Linked DNA regions of Homo sapiens. The protein of the gene in region 2 binds, or shares a complex with, the protein of the main gene of each other region. Each region holds a gene or a part of one and is shown on either strand. Other genes may lie near its edges. A codon is read from its position in the direction of its gene.

What was found. The genes of interacting proteins can lie anywhere in the genome.
Region 1: LIN9 (region 2) and MYBL1 share a complex: the UniProt entries of both Homo sapiens proteins name them as parts of the DREAM complex.
Region 3: the proteins of LIN9 (region 2) and LIN52 are in contact, whole or in part, in a crystal structure (PDB 6C48), measured with the Homo sapiens proteins. Residues at the interface, in NP_001353174.1 of Homo sapiens: Leu335 (codon at 1,833), Gly336 (codon at 1,830), Phe338 (codon at 1,824), Phe342 (codon at 1,812), Leu343 (codon at 1,809), Ile344 (codon at 1,806), Val346 (codon at 1,800), Thr347, Leu349, Ser350, Lys351, Leu353, Met354, Lys356, Lys357, Ile360, Leu363, Arg364, Asn367, Thr368, Ala370, Glu371, Lys374, Ile382, Phe384, Gln385, Tyr388, Ala389, Val392, Leu395; in NP_001019845.2 of Homo sapiens: Asp61, Met64, Leu65, Leu68, Gly69, Leu71, Thr72, Thr73, Leu76, Met77, Val80, Leu83, Gln84, Leu86, Ala87, Leu90, Asp93, Glu94, Glu97, Met98, Arg100, Gly101, Leu104, Asn105, Ile106, Leu107, Glu108, Pro110.

Annotation. Positions count from the first base shown.
Region 1 is NC_000008.11:66,610,219-66,618,150, reverse strand, and holds the start of MYBL1 (myb-related protein A), read left to right. Parts: upstream 1-4,932; 5' UTR 4,933-5,312; coding exon 5,313-5,332; intron 5,333-5,357; exon of another isoform or gene 5,358-5,578; coding exon of another isoform or gene 5,579-5,637; intron 5,638-7,932. UniProt on the Homo sapiens protein: Transcription factor that specifically recognizes the sequence 5'-YAAC[GT]G-3'.
Region 2 is NC_000001.11:226,263,736-226,271,562, forward strand, and holds part of LIN9 (protein lin-9 homolog), read right to left. Parts: intron 4,356-7,827; coding exon 4,222-4,355; intron 2,598-4,221; coding exon 2,478-2,597; intron 1,900-2,477; coding exon 1,798-1,899; intron 1-1,797. UniProt on the Homo sapiens protein: Acts as a tumor suppressor. Inhibits DNA synthesis. Its ability to inhibit oncogenic transformation is mediated through its association with RB1. Plays a role in the expression of genes required for the G1/S transition.
Region 3 is NC_000014.9:74,080,580-74,087,955, forward strand, and holds the start of LIN52 (protein lin-52 homolog), read left to right. Parts: upstream 1-4,376; 5' UTR 4,377-4,383; coding exon of another isoform or gene 4,384-4,395; coding exon 4,396-4,414; intron 4,415-7,376. Other genes in the region: ALDH6A1 (methylmalonate-semialdehyde/malonate-semialdehyde dehydrogenase [acylating], mitochondrial isoform 1 precursor), read right to left, coding at 3,768-3,815.

The sequences.
Region 1 (7,932 bases), on a different chromosome or scaffold from region 2:
GAGACTGCTTTTGAGAGCAAAATTAATCTCTGTAGTACTAATGTGTAGCATGAGTAGGTGTTCAAGAACTGTTCGTTAAATTGAATTAAATAATATTAATAAGATATAAATAAGATTAATAAGCATTTCTTTTATAAGAATAGGGATTCTCAATCTTTATTATAGCACCAGGTGCTATGTGCTCTGTGCAGAAATTTTATATTATACCACTACCTCCCTCTTATGGTAATTTACATGAATATGTACAAGTGAACCAACTTTGCACTAATTTGTTTACTGTGATATTTATCAGTAATTCACTAAAGAGGAACAGCAGAGTATCACTAGCTTTTCAGTATTTGAGTCCAGTATTGCAGCTCTTAAAAGTAGGTTTTTCTAAAACTAAAAATCAGAATGTTGAGATTGTCATTTTCAAAGATTTATCCTTTTACCAAATAAGAAAAAGCCAGCCATTCACAAAGCAGAAAGGGGTCACCATTAGCTATGAATGCTTTCTATGTCTCTGGAGCTTCACATCCAACACAACTATAGCTGTGAGAGAAGGGTGCTGATCCCTTCCTCCCTTCCTCCTTCCCTCTTTCCTTATCTCTCTTTCTTTTTTTCTTGTTGTATCTGACAATGGTTACTTTCTTTTTTTCGAGATGGAGTCTCATTCTGCCGCCCAGGCTGGAGTACAGTGGTGCAATCTTGGCTCACTGCAACTTCTGCCTCCCAGGCTCAAGCTATTCTCCTGCCTCAGCCTCCTGAGTAGCTGGGACTACAGGCACACGCCACCACGCCCAGCTAATTTTTTTATTTTTAGTAGAGACAGGGTTTCACCATGTTGGCCAGGATGGTCTCGATCTCCTGACCTCAGGTGATCCATCTGCCTCAGCCTCCCAAAGTGCTGGGATTATAGGCGTGAGCCACCGCACCTGTCCGATGGTTATTTTCAATCCCAAGACGTACACTTTATCCAGTAAAAATTGGGCTGAAGAATTTAGGAATTCTAAAATAAAAATTTGAATTGGAAAAATAAAAATTTACTTCATGAAGATTAATATATAATAAGGAGAGTGACAGGGGTTGTGAGTGCCCCTTCATTCATGACACTCTAGCTGTCAGGTCTGGGATTTGATTTTACCCTACTTATAAGCTAAGTTAAACTGTTACTGGCTCATGGATCCTTTTACCAGAAGACACAAGACTCTAAGGTTGGGGACAAAGTGTTGGTATTACTTACAGCACAGCAAACACCTTGAGCATCAACATATTTGTGCCAGTTATTCTTGCTTTCAGGTCCCATGGGGCAATGTAATGGTACCAGATGGATGTCATGCATAGAGTGGATTTGTGCTACAGTTGAGAAACACTCAACTTGGGAATCCACTGCTTTTATAGTAAGCAGTAAGTAAACCTAGTTTTTGTCTTGGACTGAGATGTTACCTCATCTCTCAAGGCAACTAGCTGCAAATAACCCTTAGAAATGGCCTGTGTAAAAGAGTACTCAGGGCCTTGCAATCTAGGCACACCCAGCAAGATGTATATAGGAGTGCAAGAAGCCCAAGGAAGATTGTTTTAGTAACCACACCAGCATCTCTAAAGAATGGCCCTAGTTAGGCATAGATGGCTCATGCCTATAATCCCAGCACTTGAGGACGGTGAAGCAGCAGGACTGCTTGAGCCCAGGAGTTCAAGGTTACAGTGAGCTATCATCACACCACTGCAATCCAGCCTGGGCTACACAGCTAGACCCCATCTCTAAAAACGTTACGAAAAGGCCAGGGTCAGTGACTCATGCCTGTAATCCCAGCACTTTGGGAGGCTGAGATGGACGGATCACCTGAGGTCAGGAGCTTGAGACCAGCCTGGCCAACAGGGCAAAACCCCGTCTCTACTAAAAATACAAAAATTAGGCCAGGCATGGTGGCTCATGCCTGTAATCCCAGCACTTCGGGAGGCCGAGGCGGGAGGATCACCTGAGGTCAGGAGTTCCAGACCAGGCTGGTCAACATGGTGAGACCCCATCTCTACTAAAAATACAAAAAATTAGCCTGGGGTGGCAGGATAATTTCTTGAACCCGGGAGGTAGAGGTTGCAGTGAGCCAAGATCATGCCACTGGACTCCAGCCTGGGTGACAGAGTGAGACTCTGTCTCAAAAAACAAAAACCACAAAAATTAGCCGGGCATGGTGACACATGCCTGTAATCCCAGCTGCTTGGGAGGCTGAGGCACAAGAATTGCTTGAACATGGGAGGTGGAGGTTGCAGTGAGTGGTGATCGCGCCAATGCACTCCAGCCTGGGTGACAGAGTGACTGTCTAAAAAAAAAAAAAAAAAAAAAAAAAAAGACCTACTATTTGACAGCACAAGTTGACTAGAGTCAATAACTTGATTGTAGATTTTAAAATAACTAAAATTTATAATAACTAAAAGTAACACAAAGGATAAATACTCAAGGGGATGGATACCCCATCTCCATGATGTGATTATTTCACATTGCATGCCTGTATCAAAACATCTCATGTACCCCACAAATATATACACCTACTATGTACCCACAAAAATTAAAAAACAAACAAAACAAAGCCACTATAAATGTTTTGCAAAATGGCTGAATTCTGCATGCCTAACAGCAATGTATGCAAGTTGTACTTGCTCAGCATTTTCATCTTCACCAACATTTGTATAGTCAGTCATTTTCCCCGCTCATTCTAACAGAAGTGTAGTCTAGTATCTCATTGTGGTTTAATTTGCATTTCTCTAATGACTAATGAGGTGGAACATCATTTAATATGCCTGTCGTGTGTGTGTGTGTGTGTGTGTGTGTGTGTGTGTGTGTGTATGTATATATATATCTCGTTTGGTGAAATCTGTTTAAATCTTTTGCCCATTTTTTAAATGCTTTTTTTCTCACTGAGTTTTGAGAGTTCTTTATATACTCTGAATAAAATCTCTAAACGTTTGCTTAAAAAAAAACTCATCTTAGTTTAGAATACATCTGAGTATGTGTATTCAAATGACTGTGAACCACTTTAATTCCACACTTTGCCCTGAGTTTTATAACTGATTTCAGTAATTTCACAATGTTATCTTTCTGGGAATTGCTTTTCTCTATATGTAAAAATGAGGGAAATTTGTTTTACTGTCAAAATCTAAAACATTTGTCTTCAAGCTCTAAAAAAGGTATTCTGTATAAAACTGAATACAGCCTAAAATATAGCAGAAGCTCTGCTTCCTGTTAGATATAAATAAGTGAAGTAATGTACGACCCAGGGGTAAATAAGAAAACAGTGAAACAGTGATTCCAAATGACATTGGGAACATAATGAAATTTGGGAACTCATTTCTAAATTATTTTTTATTTTTTTATTTTTACTGAACCAGCAACCCAGTAAGGAATGATCTGGAAGAAACGCTTGGCCAGGTGTTGTGGCGCGCGCCTGTAGTCCCAGCTACTTTGGAGGCTGAGGCAAGAGGATCGCTGTTCGAGGCTACTGTAAGCTATGATTGTGCCACTGCACTCCAGCATGGGGAATAGAGTGAGACCTAGTCTCAAAAAAAAAACAACAAAAAAAAAAACAGGAGAGAAAAAGAAAAGCTGTTTTATCTTCCCTTACCTTCCCAGAATCTATACCTTGAAAAAAGGAACTGTTAAAAAAAAAAAAGCCAGTGTGTTTAGGTTTTGACAGCAGTGCATGCAAGCTTCTCTCTTAATTCAGCTCCTCTTAATTCACTCTGCACCTGCATCTGATTTGCAAAAGATGAAGCGTAAAATTTCAAAATAGCAAGTGTTTGTTACAGTGTTAACATGTGGCTCAGTGCTCTATGCAATAGACCATGTTGCCTTGCAAATTTTCCTTAGCCAAGTGTAATTGTTACTGTAGCAAATCTACTTTAATGCTACTTGAAATGAACAGTTCGTAGTTATTAGACTGGAACCTCAAGTAGCTGCAACCGCTAGAAACTCCTCCGGTGGTTCCCCCCTCCCTGGTCTCTCCAGAGGGAAGAAGGTCACCTTCTACACTTAACTACCATGCTCATTCATCTGGACGAAATGCCCAGTCCACTGTCTTCTTCACGCGTTATTCTCCAGGACAGGGCTCCTCCGCCGCGCACGTTATTTCCTGTAGAGCGGGCACGAAATTAAGCACCTTGAAGACCAGCGGTAGACACAGATTATCTCCGGTTCCAAGCACGTCTCCCGCTAGGAACTTTTTTCACTTGTCACTCTTCTGCTGCTTTTTGAGGAAAACAGGTGATATTTGGTTTCCTGCCAGAGTCTTCGTCACTCTCGTAACTATGATGTCTGGGTAAAAATAGCTCACATTTTTGCTTAAAAAATAACGGCCGCGCAAATTTATGGTTAGATTTGTCTCAAGTCTGAAGACCGCGCATCCTAACTAGTGAGGCGGAAGACACCTAAGGAGCCAGGAGCTGTCGCCGAGGCGAGGCTGCGGAGACGTTCCCTTGGTGGGCCGCGGGACCACCCACCCCGCCAGAAACTCGGTTCGCTCACCCTAAGAATTTTGGGGCAACTGGACTTCTCCACCGCCCGCTTCCGGACCCGCTCCGGCGCCGCTTCCGGACCCACTCCTCGGCGAGCGCAGGAACTCGCTCTCCCAGCAGGCCCCGCGCGGTGCGCCTCTCGGCGCGTTCCGGGTCCTATGACAGCTCGGCTCGCATGCGCCACCTACGGCCCCACCCGCGGCCCCACCCCCTGGCTCCCGGCTCCTTCCCCGACTCCCGCGAGTTCCAGTCCCAGCTTCCAGCTCCCCAGCCCCGCCCTCAGCCGCGCGCGCTCTCCCCTCCCCGCCCTCGCTTCTTCGCGTGCGGCCCCCACAGCCAATGAGGTTCAGGGCCGCGTGCGCAGATTCAAACGGCGGCTCTTGAGGGAGGCTGGGCGCGAGATTCGGCGGTGCGGACAAAACCCTGCAGGAGACTGCGAGCCCTGCAGAACTGCTAGCTGCGGGGGAGAGGGCAGGGGTCGGGCGCCTGTGGCGGAGCCGGGCTGGGGCCAGGGCAGGGAGGCTGACAAGCGGCGGGAGAAGCCGGCGGAGGGCGGGATCGCGCCTCCTGACATGTTGGGGGTATCCCTGGCCGGGCCGGGCCGGGGCTAAGAGCGGCGCTGCGGGCCGGGGTCGGGGTCGGGTCGCGGTCCGCCCCCGCTGTCCCTCCGTCCTGCCCTGTCGAGGACGTGCGTTCCGCACTCGGCCGCCTCCAGAGGGAGCGAGGGAAGCGGCTAGAGGATCGGGGAGAAGGAGCATTCGCCGGAGGCTGGAGGAGGCTGACCCGCGTCCCCGCCCAGCCTGCTCCTATGCGGTACTTGAAGGATGGCGAAGAGGTCGCGCAGGTGGGTGGCACCCCTTTCGCCCAGGCCTGTCGGCGCCGTCTCGGCTCAGATTCTCTTTCCTATCCCGCTGCCCCCTCCCGCCATAAGGCCCTCCCTGGCGAGGGCAGAGGTTTTTCTTCCCGCGTCCCCGCGGCCGCTTGGCCTCGATGACCGGAGGGCAGCTGCGACGTGTGGAGAGTTGGGGACCAGGGTGTTTGAGGCGCGGGACGTAAGAGATGCCCAGGTTTCTCGGTGACTCTCCCCGTAATGCGCGTCCAGATTTCTGACCTCATGCTGCCACTTCTTCGAGGCAGGTTTCTTGCCAGGTAAGTCGAGCGCTTTTAGGGAGTCCGCTACGCAGAGAAAACTGACTGTGTCCTGCCGGGAGGACTTGAAAATGGTGTTCGGGCGACTCTTTTCTGAATGACGGTACAGTCAAAATAGGAACTCCGCGGTGAACCTGGGCGGCCACCCCTCTGCCAACTTGGCTATCTTGAAACGTTGTGGAAAATCCTCTGGGGAATAGCTGAGAGGACTTTTTTGATGTTTTCTGTAATTCCTATACCCATATGCTCAGCTTTATGTATATATGTATATTTTAATATCCTCTCTTGGGACCATGTCACATAGTAACAACTAGTAGTAACAACTAGTAGCTTGATCTTGAAATAAAACAATGTGTTTGATTCACTTAATATTTTGAGTGTCTGTGTTTGGCTCTGACCGTACCTAAGTGTTCCACAGAGGTAAGGCACTTTTTTCCACCTTTGCCTGGAAAATGTGCTAGGATGAATTTATGCATCTAATTTTCGTTTACATGCCATTACAGCAGCTACTCATAAATTATGTGGAGTAATTGCTTAGATAACAAAAATATAGGATGTCTTCCGATTTTCAGCATTATCAAATAAACCTGAAAAGATGTTTGGCAGGATTTCCAAATATTTATTTATCTAGATCCACAGCCCCAAAATCTTAACTAGAGATGTATTTCCTAAGTTGAAATTTAGTAATGGGGGTCATTCATTGCAGAGTTCTGCTAAAAATTGGCAGTAACTATACATAATTGTTTTTTCCTTAGTTTTCTGTTAAGCATCTGCTGTGTGCAGGATGCTTCTGCAGAAATCCTTAAGTCTCTGTAAGCTTATTAGTTTTGAAGTAAGTTATAGGACAAACTCTTGAGATGAAATAAATGTGTACACAGACCCCTCTAAAACTGTTTTCAGCCTTTGCACTATTGACATCTTGGACCAGATAATTCTTTGTAATGGGGAGATGTTTAGCAGCATCGCTGGCTTCTACCCAGTAGAGATAGTAACACTCCACTTCCCTCAGTCATGACAGTAAAAATGTCTCCAGACATTGCCAAATATCTTTTGGGGGACAAAATCACCCAGGAAAGAACCACCCTTCTAGAACTTCAAGGACCCAATTAACATCAATCTTCAGAAAAGATAGATATTTAAAGCTCTTGTAATTATGATTGCCGAAGTACTGGTTTAGGCTTTTTGAATTTTTAAATATAAAAAAATTTAAAAATAAGATGACAATTGAATATGTTAACTCAATAACAAGTTTATTAATGTGTGATATTATCTACTTATCAGTATTGATGTTAATCTTATTTGAAACAGTTTCTTGGCTAATTCTGTCATCAGCATTTAGTTAAATTAAAATTATGGCTAGACACGAATGTTTAAATGTCAGAACCTTCCCCTCCCCATGGGTTTTCTGTCCATTTCATATGTGTGAAGTGTATGTTTCATAATAATGGACAAAGAAAGGAGAAACAACTTAATGTTAGTTTGCATATATAAGTTGTTTTATTGAGAATACTGTGAGCTTGAAATCTAAATATTGTACTTTTGACATTTATCCCTTGACAGTTGTGTAAGTTAATTTAAACATGATAGAATGATTTAAAGGGTCGTAAATCTGGAGTAATTAAATGTGGTGGGGTGAAGCTATACTCTCCCTGGGAGTATACAGATAGAGGATGTGGGGAGAAATTATCATCTCTGAATGATGTATCTCTTAAGTCTTCATACTTAAATGTGTTTCATACTCTGAATTACATTTCTTGCCCACGTAAATATGATTTACATATCTTAGAAGATAGTAGATGCTCTGCTTTTGTGCTTCAACAAAAAACAAAAGAGGATAGAGTGTGAATTGTTTTGAAGCAAAAATAATGTCATTGGGAAAAATCTCTCTTGCCTTTTACCTAAGTATCTTAATATATTTGAACTCAATTTATAGTTGAAAGGGAAAAGAAATAATTCAGTTACTTCAAGTTGTAATTTGAGATCTCCAGTATACAACCACTTAAGCGTTCAAGTGAAAACTATACTTTGCTGTATAAAAGTTTTGCCTAAGAGCATAGGCGTAAATCCTGTAATATATGTTTCCTATGTGAACTGAAAAAAAAAAACCCAAAAAAACCTAAGAGTAGAAAACTAAGTGTTACCTCAAGTGTGAACAACTGCAGGATGTTAGCTGTTTTGATCTTTAAGATAGCCGTAGTATCTGTCCTCTAGATTTACATAAAGGAAGACTCATTTGTATTGTGACTTTAAATAATTTTACATCCCACTGGGAATTGCGATGACAATTTACAGGCA
Region 2 (7,827 bases):
AAGCCAAAGGTATAAGAAATTTTATATTGCAAGGATAACTAACAATATATCATTGGCTGGGCATGGTGACTCAAGCCTGTAATCTTAGCACTTTGGAAAGCCAAGGTGGGAGGAACATTTGAGCCCAGGAGTTCAAGACCAGCCTAGGTAACATAGTGAGACTCCATCTCTACAAAACCAATAAAAAATATATTAGCTGGGAGTGGTGGTACATGCCTGCAGTCTCAGCTACTTGGGAGGCTGAGGTGGGAGGACTGCCTGAGACTGGAGGTTAAGGCTGCAGTGAGCCATAATGGCACCCCTGTACTCCAGCCTGGACAACAGAGCAAGACTTTGTCTCAAACAAACAAATAAATAAATAAATAGGCCAGGTGCAGTCGCTCATGCCTGCAATTCCAGCACTTTGGGAGGCCGAGGGCGATCATGTGAGGTCAGGAGTTTGAGACCAGCCTGGCCAACATGGTGAAACCCCGTCTCTACTAAAAATACAAAAAATTAGCTGGGTGTGGTGGCGTGCGCCTGTAATCCCAGCAACTTGGGAGGCTGAGGTGATTCCACTGGAACCCGGGAGGTAGAGGCTACAGTGAGCTGAGATCGTGCCACTGCACTCCAGCCTGGGAGACAGAGTGAGACTCTGTCTCAAATAAAATAAATAAACAAATAAATAAATAAATATTAAATAAAAAAATGTGATTGAGGAACACAGAATGCTATATACAGACACACAACTGACAAGACCTTTCCTCAAAATAACATCAACTGCAAAAGAACACTGTGAATATTTTCATGGATTATGTTATAAACATTTTTATTTATAAAGATCATATCAGCCAGGTGCAGTAGCTCACACCTCTAATCCCAGCACTTTGGGAGGCCAAGGTGGGGGGATCACTTGAAGTTAGGAACTGGAGACCAGCCTGGCCAGCACAGTGAAACCCCATCTCTATTAAAATTACAAAAAAAATTAGCCGGGCATAGTGGTGCATGCCTGTAATCCCAGCTACTCAGGAGGCTGAAGCAGGAGAAAAGCTTGAATCCAGGAGGTAGAGGTTGCAGTGAGCCCAGACTGACCCACTGCACTCCAGCCTGGGCAACAGAGCAAGACTCAGTCTCAAAATGAATAAATAAATAAACAAATGAAAATAAAGATCATTTCTATCCCAAGCCAAAGTAGTTTTCATTTTCCAAAAAGGAAATGAAACATTATTAGACTATGATTCAAACTAAAAAATTTATTTAATCTAATTTTCAAACTCACTACATTTTTAAGAGTCCAGCTATAAGGAAATTTTCCAATATAATACTTCTACACTTAGTTCAGTTTAGGCTTAGATTTCTTAGTGTCTAATCACTAAGTACTTAGCAGGTGAATACCTGTTTCTAGTCTCTGAAAAGAAATAAAATTTCTTCTAACCATATAAGCTAGCCAGGACATCATAACTGTTGAACTGACTGATGATGGCAGAATATGCTGAGGTTACTAAATAAAAGCCTTCATAGTTACCCAAGTTATTAACAGCCAAACATTCAGAATTTCACAGAACATATGCAAGAATGTTTGAGCCCTTAAAATAGCAGAATAATAAGAACTCAGACACAAGACAAAGCTCAAGAAGAAAGATCTTTAAGTCTTTTTTGGTTTTTATAACTTTTATTTTCAGGCTTTGTTGGAAATAGCAGCTCTTAAAACCTACACGGTGATAAACCTACACGGCCCTAGAAAAATTTTCAACTTTAATAACATAAAAGGCATTGAGTTTTTAAACAAACAGCCAAGATATTCAGAACAATTCTTACCACTTGGATAAGAAATTCTACTGGAAAACCACCTAATGTTTCAGTGTCAGAGCCAGAAATTTTACTTCTCCACGGCGACTGTCCTAATAAAGGATCATTATCCTATGGGAATAAAAAGGAATTATTTAATCATTGACTATTCAGAGGAAGTATCTTATTTTTTTATTTTTATTTTTTTTTAGACGGAGTCTCGCTCTGTTGCCACTTGTGATCTCGGCTCACTGCAATCTCTGACTCCTGGGTTCAAGCGATTCTCCTGCCTCAGCCTCCCGAGCAGCTGGGATTACAGGCGCGCGCCACCACGCCCAGCTAATTTTTGTATTTTTAGCAGAGACGGCGTTTCACCATGTTGATCAGGTTGGTCTCGAACTCCTGACCTCGTGATCCGCCTGCCTCAGCCTCCCAAAGTGCTGGGATTACAGGCGTGAGCCACTGCGCCCGGCCAGGAAGTATCTTATTTTTAGAAAAAGAGAAAATTCTGTTATAATTAATATTATATTAAAATCCAATAAAAAGGAAATTATTTCTGGAGATGAAGCAACTATTTATTTTATTTAATATTTTCAATTCAAAATAGTGTGCATACTTTGAAGTTGCTGTAATAGATGTGTATTTCTTAAGAACATAGTTCACCTTCATAAAAATCAATTAAATTATTGATATTTCTAAAATATACTTACTATAATTGGTGACTGGAGAGGAGGAGTATAATGTAACCGTGGTGGGGTCATAAAAAATCGAGAAGGCCGCTGTTTTTGTCCAAAGGCAGCAATTGGCATTGTCTCATGAGGTTCATTACTCTGAGAAAACAGAATAATTCACAAAACTTAAAGAAATTTACCAATCATTTAAGCTTTATAATCATTGTATTTCAGCTTGAGATATATATTCACGCATATTCTATGATTCATATAGAATTTATTACTTATATATTTAATTATTTATAGAGTAGCATATTAGTCTATACAGATCAAAGGCTAGAACTTGAAACAGAGTATGAAAACACTACTTTGCTGCCAAAAGGATGAACCTCCAGAAGAAAAAAAGAAATAAAAAAAAAGGGGGGGGGTCAAAATAGTTCAGAGAATCAAAGATTAATATTAAAGTTTTCTATGGCCACATTTGGTTATCTGCATTTAGACTGTCTGAATATACCCTACAATTAAAAATCAACTCTTATTTAGCCAGGGAGAAATATTTGGGTGATCTCATAAAAACAGTTAAATTAATGAAACAGAGAAGCAATTTACTTTTTTTTTTTTTTGAGACCGAGTTTTACTCTTGTTGACCAAACTGGAGTGCAATGGCGCGATCTCGGATCACTGCAGCCTCCACCTCCTGGGTTCAAGCAATTCTCCTGCCTCAGCCTCCCAAGTAGCTGGGATTACAGACATGTGCTACCCCACCCAGCTAATTTTTGTATTTTTAGTAGAGATGGGGTTTCACCATGTTGGCCAGGCTGGTCTTGAACTCCTGACATCAGGTGATCCGCCCATCTCAGCCTCCCAAAGTGCTGGGATTATAGGTGTGAGCAACCGCGCCTGGCCAATTTACTTTTTTTGAAAGGAGAGTTTAAAGCTTTCATCCTTTAATGTAAAAACTTAAGAGCAGTGTACTCTGTTCTACATTTAGTTCTAATTTTCTTTCTCTCCTATTGCGGAGAGATATCAAGCAATATTGTATTTCTGCACTAAGGAGATATATATATATATATATATATATTTCTTTTAGGAAATATATTTACAAAGACATACATATATATGTGTGTGTATATATATTATGTATATATGTATGTATGTATGTATGTATGTATATTCTAGGCAGAGGTTGCAGTGAGCCGAGATCACACCACTGCACTCCAGCCTGGGCGACAGAGCAAGACTCCGTCTCAAAAAAAAAAAAAAAAAAAGATCTCAATTCTAGTCTCAGCCTAATAGGAAACCAGATCTAGAGCCTTGAATAAATTACGCAATTGTACTTATGTCTGAGTTTCATCATGCAAAAGTGAAGGTAATTAACACCCACCTTGCATGCCTCTGAAGATAAAACAGGAGAACAAATAAGTACAAGATGTTACTATACTTTAAAAACAATTTTGCAAGAGGACTATACTTTAACCTAACAGCTGCAATGAAAATGTTATGTAGCTTCTTCTCCAAGGTTATTTAGTCAGGACTCATCAGTTTGGTTATACTAAAGTGCTGTGTCGTTAAGGTCCAACAGAGAAATGCTAGTTCCTGGCAAATGGAAGACTTAAGTATAGATCCGAACCAGGGGTCTAGCAGATAGGGCTGGGGTCCCCTAAGGATCTCTTCCTCTGTGAGATAAAGTCTTGATTCTATCATAAAATACGATTTCTAAAAAAACTCTATATAACACATTTAACAGGCATAAAACACAAATGTATTATGAAATACTACTTACGAGAACTTCATAGTCAGGGATGGTATGGGTTCCAAGCCCTGTCCTATCAAAAGTTACTCTATAAGTAGCATTAAGAGTATCCACAGCATCTATTTGTCCAGTGAACAAACCATCATGAACACCACGTAATCGTGCTGAGAAAAGAACAAAGGCATTATGATGTGTGGGAGATACAAAGAATAGTCAAATATAAAACTGTTCCAAGCATGTAATTTAAATCATAGTACAGTATTTTGTCTATTAGAGTTTCAAAACAAGCACACACTTTATTTTTGGCTTAGAGAAACAACAAAGAATTTTTGAAACAAAAACAAAAACTATAAATGATGATCCCTAATTTCATATTTGAATAAAATTATATTACTCCCAAATTAAGAGAAAAATATTTTAAATCATTTAACTGCAAAAAAAACAACAAAAGAACTTTGGTCATTATACTCATGAGTGAAGCACCAGGAGTAGTTCAATTTAAAAAAAAAGACAAAGATGTTGTGTAGAAAATAATTAAAGAAGTTAATACTGCAGGCCTGATGCTGCTATACTTAGGAAAACCTCCTTGCAAGGTTGGCCTTTGTCTGGTATCTGGGAACTTGGATTTCGGAAGTGTTCCCACTGTTCCCTAATTAATAATGGTGGTTTTACTGTGTCTAGATTGTGCAAACGATGTGGTTAATGCTGGACACCTGCTTTCCCTCTGGAAGACTGGAATTTTAGTATGTACTAGGCAAAAGATGCCTACATACTCAGCCCCCAGTAGAACTCTGGTCACTGAGTCTCTAATGAGCTTCCCTGGTAGACAACACTTATAAGCATTGTGACAACTTGTTTCTGGGAGAATTAAAAGTCTTGCATGACTCTATTGGGAGAGGACTTTTGAAAACTTGCACGTGGTTTCCTCTGGACTTTGCCCCAAGCACCTTATTCTTTTGCCAATTTTGTTTTGTGTCCTTCACTGTAACAAATCTTACCCATGAGTACATGTGCTGAGTATTCTGAGTCTTTCTAGTGAATCACCAAAACTAGTAGTCTTGGAACTGATGACACAGATGAACTGTGTCACTATTATTTAAGTCCAGCCTAAAATAACATCAGAGAAATCCAAACAAACATCCAGCATGAGTAAAAAATTTAAGAACAACAGCATTGATGGCTGTAAACTGGGCAAAGTAATACATTTTATACTAACCAAAAAGTATAATACACAACATTTTAATAGAACACAGAAATACACAATGCAAGACTGTTTAAAATAAAAGGATCAATTGATAAAAACACAACTGTAGAGGACTAAAATCTCTCTCAGTTTCTGACAGATCCTTTAAGGGAAAAGTAAACATGGATACAGAAGATGTAAATAATGAAGCTGAGTAAACAAATATAAGCATAGAAAAGGACTACTAGTTATGGTGGCATGAAGAGGCTGGTAATTCCTCTCCACAAAAAACAAGTACAAACCTGAATGAGATTGTGAAAAACAACCATTCCAGGGTACTGGAAATGGATCAAATGTAGAAAACAAGAAACGTTTATTGTTGAAGAAGTGCTAGAGCTTCAGGTTAGGGCAGGGGGACTCAGTGGCCTCTTTGCACGAGGTTATTCACACACCCACTACTACCACCAACGTGGTCGATGAGAATGGTTTTATTAGTTCAGGGTTGGTCACGAAAACCAGCCAGAATTTTGACTGGTCATGAAAGACAGCCAGAAATTTAACAGGGAGATCATGGAAACTAGAGAGCCATAAAAGGGCGGAAATAAGCTCTCTACCATCCCTGGCTAACTGGGTTACTATGCAAATGGAGGGGGAAGATCCAATAGTCTGGCAAAAAGTAAAAGCTAAGGATGACTTGAAAACTAGCAGCAACTTTGTATTTACATTCCCCAACTCACATATAAATCAATGTGAGGCTTTTCCCGATCAAGATGTTTGAGCATAACCTCTGTTCAAATCATTAGGTGACCACTAAATTATTATTATTATTTTGAGATGGGAGTCTCGCTCCGTTGCCCAGGATGGAATGCAGTGGCACGATCTCGCTCACTGCAACCTCCACCTCCCGGGTTCAAGTGATTCTCCTGCCTCAGCCTCCTGAGTAGCTGGGATTACAAGTGCCCGCCACCACACCCGGCTAATTTTTTTTTGTATTTTTAGTAGAGACAGGGTGTCACATGCTGGCCAGGCTGGTCACAAACTCCTGACATCAGGTGATCCGCCCGCCTCAGACTCCCAAAGTGTTGGGATTACAGGCGTGAGCCACCGCACCCAGCCCTGACCACTAAATTATATGCAGACACAGGGGTAACTCTTTGGAAATCAAGTTTAATAATAATAATAAATATAAGAATAAAAAATGAAGCAGAGACATCAGTATTTGCATAGCCAAGTTATTAAAGCAAATCCAACAACTCTCCAAAAAATTAGAATACATAGTTGCTACAATATATTATCTGAAATATCAAGTTTTCCACCAAAAATTACTAGACATGTAAAGAAGTAGGAAAGCATGGCTCTTAAGAAAAGTACAGTAAGAAATTGAGAGAGATATTTAGCAAAGACTTAAAAAAGCAGCTGTTATAAATATGTTCAAAGAATTAAAGTAGGCTGGGCGTGGTGGCTCACTTTGGGAGGCCCAAGAGGGTGGATCGCTGGAGCTCAGGAGTTCAAGACCAGTCTGTGCAACATGGTGAAACCCCATCTCTACAAAAACATACAAAAAAATTAGCCAGGCATGGTGGCATGTGCCTGTAGTCCCTGGAGGCTGAGGTGGGAGGATTGCTTGAGCCCAAGAGGTAGAGAGGTAGAGACTGCAGTGAGCCAGGATAGTACCACTGCACTCCAGCCTGGAAGACAGAGCAAGACTCTGTCTCAAAAAAAAAAAAAAAAAAAAAAAAAAGGTTTGTGTATGTATGTACTTTTTTCCTATTCTCTTCATTTCTGTTTTTTGAAAAATTTATTTGATAAATAAAATCTTTTTTATTTCTTTTCCATTTACTCCTTTAGATAACCTACAGAAAATCCCAGATAACCTGGAATTATCGTTCATTTTACAAAGATTACTTTTAGGATAGTTCAGATTCTTATAATTTCTTAACAAATCAATGATTTTAATATCTTTTTTAACACTCTCATTTCTCCAGGGGTAAACAACTGTGGCTTAAGTATGACGTCTCAAACAACTTTCTATATACTGTAGCTAAAGTATCATGTCTAGACATTTTTCCAAACTTCTCTACTATTCAAATTTTCCATTACTTTGAATACGCAGTGCATCTGTCAAAACTCTTGTGCTTCTAACTCTGTATCTGACAATCACAAAGTCCAGTCACTTTTTACCTGCCAGATTCTTTGTTCCTACAGCAAAATCCCTAATAGAGTGACTTTTTAATTCTTTTGGCTCTTGTTTTTGAGGAAAAATCTACTACTCTTTGTTTACTAAAATATTTTCTAAAGAAGGAATATGTTTAATTAAATTCTATTGTGGTCAGAGAAATTCTCTATATGATTTCAATCTTTCAAAATGTATTGACATTTTTAATGGGCCAGTATATGGTATATGTCGATAAACAAGCCATTTGCCTATGTAAATAATATGTATTCTGCAGTTG
Region 3 (7,376 bases), on a different chromosome or scaffold from region 2:
GGCACATGCCACCATGCCCAGCTAATTAAAAAAAATTTTTTTTTGTAGAGATGGGGCCTCCCTATCTTGCCAGGGCTGGTTTTGAACTCTTAGCCTCAAGCGATCCTCCTGCCTGGGCCACCCAAAGTGTTGGGATTACAGGCATGAGCCATCACACCCAGCCTACTCTTAAACTTTCTGAATCTAGTTTCCATCCCATAATCAGAGGGTCTTTCTGAAACATAAATCTGGTCAGATTATTCCCTTGTTTAAAATTCTTCTTTGGCTTTCCACTGCCCTTGGAATAAAGACTAATCCCCTTGATGTTGCTTAGAAAACGCTACATAGTATCTTTGCTTTTCTAGTTACATAACTGGCTACTTTCCTCCCTGTTCTCTATGCTCCTGCAATTTAACGTGTGTCTTGCTTTCTTTGCTCTTGCACATGCTGCTCTCTCTTGCCTGGCACTGTTTCATCTAATTTCCTTGGCTCATTCCTACTCCTTTAGGTCCCCACTCAGCCATCATCACTTTCTCTAGGAAGTCTCAACCTCAGGTCTATGGTAAGCAGCTGATTGTGAAGCTCATAAAGCACCCAAATTCCTTTATTTCTCATCTCACGCTATGAAATAATAGCTTGTCTAATGATTAACTTTCTCTCCTTTGAGGTCACTAGATTGTTGTGTCCCCAGCCCCTAGCACAATTCCTGGAAGAGAGTAAGTACTTAGTAAGCAATATTTTGCACAATGAAAGAATGAGTACTCGCCAAGCAATCATTTGATATTGTTTCAGTACTCTCAAGTTGGCAGACAATGCACTGATCAGCCAACTTGAGCATTCTAGGCCACTTAAATTTTATTTTTTCACTTGTATACAGCCTCCCTGCTGTTAAGAGGATGTAAAAAGCACTACATCTGGTATAATAGAACATATTCATATAGTTTTTTGACAGGTTCGATCTTCTATCTTTTCTTCATTTCCTAAGAAACACCCATTAGCATTGTTGCTGAAGAAACTATCCTGTGGCCAGTCACCCCAAACTGCTGCTCTCTAGATGTTTACTTCCTACTTGCTATATCCTTTATAAGGAACTCCTTCCTCTCCTGGTTCATGGCCTGCTAGTCCTGCAATACTTGGCTCTTTCCCTAGGTCCCCACAGTATCCCAGATACTCCTATTGTTTATCACTTATTGCAGTACAATAAAGGAGCTTTCAGTGAGCATTTTACTGTAAGCCTATGTCAGTGCCTAACATAGAAAGAGATGGCAAGACTTAAGTTCTGAATTTTCAGCCCCATCAGTTACTAGTTCGGTAACCATATCACCGACAGTGCAAGTCGCTACATCTCTTCAAGAGTAATTTTCTTGCCCAGGTGCAGCGGTTCGTGCCTGTAGTCCCAACACTTTGGGAGGCTGAGGTGGGAGGATAGCTTGAGTTTAAGAGTTCAAGACCAGCCTGGGCAACATGGTGAAACCCTGTCTCTACAAAAAATACAAAAATTAGCTGGCATGGGGGCACGATCTGTTGTTGCAGCTACTCGGAGGGCTGAGATGGAAGAATCACTTCAGCGTGGGAGGTCGAGGCTGCTGTGAGTTGTGATTGCACCACTGCACTCCAGCCTGGGTGACAGAGCGAGACCCTGTCTCGAACATTCCTTTATCTCTGCATGGGAGTGATAATATCACAAGGAGCAGAGAGAGGTTTTAGGTTAAGTTTGACTACTCTTCGTGGCAGAGAAAAATAAGCTGAATACTTAAAATAATTGAAAACATTAACTTTCTCCTCTATAAATCCTTTTGATAGTTCTCTAATATTCATGGCTGCCAAAATCGAGGTTTTTTTTTTTTTTTTTTTTTTTTTTGATGGAGTCTTGCTCTGTCGCCCAGGCTGGAGTGCAATGGCACGATCTCAGCTCACTGCAACCTCCGTCTTCCGGGTTCAAGCGATTCTCCTGCCTCAACTTCCTGAGTAGCTGGGATTACAGTCGCCCGCCACCACACCCGGCTAATTTTTGTATTTTTAGTAGAGAAGGGGTTTTACCATGTTGGTCAGGCTGGTCTCGAACTCCTGACCTCAGGTGATCCACCCACCTTGGCCTCCCAAAGTGCAGGGATTACAGGCAGGAGCTACAGCGCCTGGCCCGTAGGCTACTTTTTATCGAACTTTTAATCAAAGATTCACGTTACAACTCCTAGTTGGCTGAGGATTACTCTATCTGTTCTTTTCCAGGTCACTTCAGAAGTTTCTCCAAATGAATCAGAAAATACATAGTGTCTGTTTCTGAAATAAAAGTACATGGAAAGAGAGATTCTTCTCCTTGATGGAAAAGGACAAAATACTTTCTTAAGGTTCTCAATGACTCATTGTGATGGGAGGGGAAGAGGAGGCAAAGGAAAAAAGCCAATTTCAGTAAAAGATTTCAAGAAGTTGGTAAGAAAAATATAGGGTGGAAACTTTGTTTTCCTGCTACTAAAAAAAGATACTAGAACAGAACAAGGATCGCAGCAAGAAATATGAGTGAGGCCAGACCATCTGCCAAACCCTTCAAACTCATCCTTTCTACCTTCCCCATTAAATAGCATATTTAAAAATGAATCTTTGCTGACTCTGCCAAGAATCTTAAAACTGCCCAAGTTTCTTTACTAGAACTCACGGAAACCTGGTGAATACTAATATTACCTAAAAGCTCAGCAATATAGAGGAAATTCTCAGACTGGATGTAATGAATAAGAACGGCACTGTTGTTTCTTGCAGACTGTTTCTTGCCTGCGGTAAATCTTGCCACATACTCTAAATCCTTGGTAGGCCATGAACAGGGGAAAGACTATAAACAGAGTTGGAGATTACAGGCCTCAGGCATGCAACTCCTGTAGCTTTACCATTTCTCCTTAGGTTGGCTTCAGAGAGGACTCAATCCCCCAAGTGCAGAGATGAGGGTGTGTAGCACTAGAAGAGCTGATTTTGGGGTGGGAACTTAGACTTCTTGTCTTACCTGGCTCCCACTTTCTATCACCCGTTTTAAAGATGTTTGGTACCTTGAACATACATGGAACATACTGGTAGCTTTAACTGTGTGCCCTTATCTACCCTATCTATGTAGATGTGCCCTATCTATGTAAACTGTAACTTAGCTGAGAAAAAGTTTAACTCAAAGTTTTGGCAAGAAAGGGGACAGCCAGTCCATGGAAAATACAAAGAGCCACACTTAGGGAAAATAGCTTAGCAAATGGCTGCCTTTGGTGAAAATCTAGAGTCCACCTCTAGAAGGAAATTCAAAGTTCATACACTGACCCTCGCCCCTCGCGTCCCCCCTCCCCCTTACCTCAGATCACCACGGATAGTGAAGTAGGGTGGGGGAAGGGAGCAATGGCAAAGTGGACGCTCACGGCAGGGGACAGAGTAACCAAAAAGAGTAGTTTCTGGGGGAGAGAGAGAAGGCTGGTGCAGAGGTAAAAAGGAAAGACGGTGGGCGGATGGAGAGATGAGGGCAAGAGAGTGACAGCAGGGAGCGGGCAGAGCTGGAGAAGGAGAGTGGGCGAGAGCCAGAAAAGAGGAGGCTTAGGAGTAAAAGGGTAGAGGGCCAAGGGTAACAGCCCAGGGTTGGATCCGGGACCAGGGAGGTTATGAAGTGAGGGCTGGGCATGGGACAGGGCCGCACAGGTCGGGTAGGAGGTCTGGCCAAAAAGGGGTTGGGCCAAGAAGGTGGTCCCGCCCGAGGATGGCTCAGGGAGCGGACGGAAAGGATCCAATTCCTAGCTTCATGGTGCCTTGGCACCACCCTCACTCGCCTGCAGGATCCGGGCTCGCACTGCCGCCGCCGCCAATAGCGCCGCCATGGCTCTCGGCCGCCCTAGCTCCGCACCCCGCGCCTCTACTGCCCAGAAGCACTACAGCTGCCAGGCCTCGCCCTCCATCCTGCCAGGCTTCCTCATTGGTGGGGAGGACTATTTTCTCCAGCCAATCACTGGTCCGAACACCTGATTCCTCTCCTCACACCCCCGTCCTGGGGATAAGTGATTGGTTAGGAGCGAAAATGCTCTCGCCCTCTGCCACCTCAGCCAATGACGTAGGCGGAGGTAGAGAAGACGCCCCTGACTTGGACACTCCCTACCGAGCACACGGGGAAGACGCCCCCCTAACCTGGAACTCCGATTGGCCAAGGGCGGAACCGAGGCCCCACCCCCCCACTGAAAAAAGTAAATAAGACCCTTCAAGAATTTTGCAGTCGCTCCACCTCAACATCCGCGTAAGGGGCGTGGCTATACTTAGGGGCGGGGCTAGGCAAAGATTGCCCTATGAGGCGAGGGAATGAGACTGGGCTGCGAGTTGGGGATAGGGTTTCTCTTTGGGGGCGTGGCTTATGGAACCTCGTTTTCCCGCCGACGGTTGGCCACGTCACGTGACATGGGTTGGAAGATGGCGTCTCCCACAGACGGTAAGAGCCGGCTTAGAGATCTTTGCCTGCAGCCTCCTTCTTTGCTCTACTGGGAACATCCACTCTGTCTCTGCCCCTCGAACATACATTTCTTTCTTGGGCTCTTCTCCTTTCCCTTTTATTTTTTTTCTTGAGATCCATCGCCGTCTTCAGCTCACCGGTTCTTCACAGCAGCTCCGGAGGTGCCCAGTTTCCCCGCTCTGTACCAGGCGTGTGGAGGAGGGCACTAGGGAGGGACTCATTCTGGGTAAAAGGACAGGGGGGTCGCCCTGTGCCTTCCTTATCTCTATTTGGGCGAGGCTGAGGGTCGAGGAGGAGATGTTTCTGGAGGACGTGGCTTACTGTAGTTTTTTCCTTGGGGTACCCATTGAAAGGATCAGTTCTCTTCTGATTGAGCGCACGGATGGAATGATTCTCACAAACCCTCGCAGGGCTGCTGGCTGACCTCATCTCGATACTGAACCGCAAGAGAAACATGATCTCTCTCCTGTCTCCTCAGTTTGGGACCATTGCCGTGGCAGCAAGAGAAGCGGGGGACGTTCTCGGCCCCTCGCCCTGAGAGTCGCGAGGAGAATCAGTATTGAGCTTTTAAGTGTCGTCTTGCACAGGTCGCAACCTGTCTTCCATCTGCTTTACGTGTTGTTTCTTAAGGCTGAGTGAATTAACGATTTCTGTTTATATATTGTGTAAAATGCAAGTCATTTCAAGTAACAATTAAGTTGTTTTGGTATACTCCCATGCTTTTCCTCTTGGTTCTGCTTTAGAGAGTTAGGGTCTTGCAGTCATTTTTAAACTCATTTTTAGTTCTACCATCCTCATCCCAACTATATATCGATTTTATTGATATATAGGTTTCCTTCCCTTAGACAAAAACATTTTATATTTGGAAGGAATCTTGGAAGTTCATTGCAGGAATGAAGAAATTGAAGCCAAGGTGAGCTATATTAAGTACCTGCTACATGAAAGGCATAATGCTAGGTGCTTTGGGAGACCAAAAGATGACTCAAACATATAAACATTTTTTTTTTTCAGTTTCAGTTCTCTTTTTAGATGTCACCTCCCAAAGAGTCTTTCTTAGAACACAGTATCTGGAGTTGCCCTTTCCCACCATTATTCATTATCTCAGTATCTTCCTTGTCAGCATAGTTACTCTGTTAACTTTGCCCCTTTTGCGCTAGATTGTAAATTCCAAGTTTGTCTTGTTCATAGTTGGATCCAGGTTTAGCACAGTGCCTGACGAACAGTAGGTCTTTAATTAACATTTATTGAAAGATTGATTAGATATATGCAGAAATAATATATTACTTGATCTTAAGTTTTAAGTTTAACCGAGTCTTAAATTTTGTGAGCGCAGGTACATACTGTATTAGAAATTATGGCTGGGCGTGGTGGTTCACACTTCTAATCCCAGCACTTTGGGAGGCTGAGGCAGGCAGATCGCCTGAGCTCAGGAATTGAAGACCAGCCTAGACAACATGGTGAAACCCCATCTCTACAAAAAAATACAAAAATTATCTGGGTGTGATGCCACAAACCTGTAGTCCCAGCTACTTGGGGGGGCTGAGGCAAGAGAATCTCTTGAGCCCAGGGGGTGGAGGCGGCAGTGAACCATGTTCATGCCACTGCACTCCAGTCTGTGTGACAAAGCGAGACCCCGTCTCAGAAAAAAAAGAAGGAAAAAAAAAGAAATTATGGATGTTTGGAGTCAAAAGAGATTCTCCTGCCTGGGTGCGCTCTTGCAAAAATGTCCTTCTCTTGCCAGAAAGAAGGGCATTTAAAAAGTCAGGCAAGGGAATAGGGAGTTATTGTTAATGGGTACCAAATTTCAGTTTGGGAAGGTGAAAGAATTCTGGAAATGAATGTGATGATTGCACAATTAATGTACTTAATACCACTGAAATGTATACTTAAAAGTTATTAAAATGGTAAAATTTATGTATATTTCACCACAGTTGAAAAAAAAAGCCAAGTAATACAAGTAGAAGTAATTGTTATTAAACTTTTTAGTTTATTTTTAAATTGTTTTTACAAACTTTGGGGATTTTAGAGATGTGTTCCTTGAGTTTGATTTTTTTCCCCTGTCATCTCTCAATTTAGTTTCCTTTCTTTGGCCAGGAAGAGTATTAAAAACATTAAATTTGGCTTGGCGTGGTGGCTCACGCCTGTAATCCCAGCACTTTGGGAGGGCGAGATGGGTGGATCACGAGGTCAGGAGATCGAGACCATCCTGGCTAACACAGTGAAACCCTGTCTCTACTAAAAAATACAAAAAATTAGCCAGGCGTGGTGGTGGGTGCCTGTAGTCCCAGCTACTCAGGAGGCTGAGGCAGGAGAATGGCGTGAACCCGGGAGGCAGAGCTTGCAGTGAGCCGAGATCACGCCACTGCACTCCAGCCTGGGACAGAGCGAGACTCCATTGCAAAAAAAAAAAAAAAAAAAAAAATTAAATTTTTTTCCTTTTCTAGCCATCTCTATGGTCACTTTATTTGCACTCTTGATTTTTAAGTTTTCATTCTCATCTCTTACAAAGTTTCACTCCTCTCCACCTAATGTTTTCTTTTTAATCTGAAAAAATCAAGTCAAGCACTTTGAACTTAAATTCAGCTTCTAAATAAGTATCTCATTCCAAAATATTCCACGGCCTAGCTCTTTCACTTCTATTTTTAGTGTTCCACCTGTCACTGTCTTTAAAATTTAATTCAGATAATATTTATTTTAATATGTTTGTCATTTACTCTTTTGTCTTTTTCGTGATAAATTTGCTGGAGCGTCTTTGAAAAGGAGAAAACTGAAATTCAAATACAGCCATCTAATTACTTAATTTATGAGAGTAAGACTCACAGCAGAGTCTGAGTTCTATCCCAGACTGTGGTATCATAAGGTCACCCATGTAGGTTATTAGATTGTACCCCCAATAATTTTTTTTTAACTTTCTTTTAGAGACAGGGTCTCTCTCACTCTA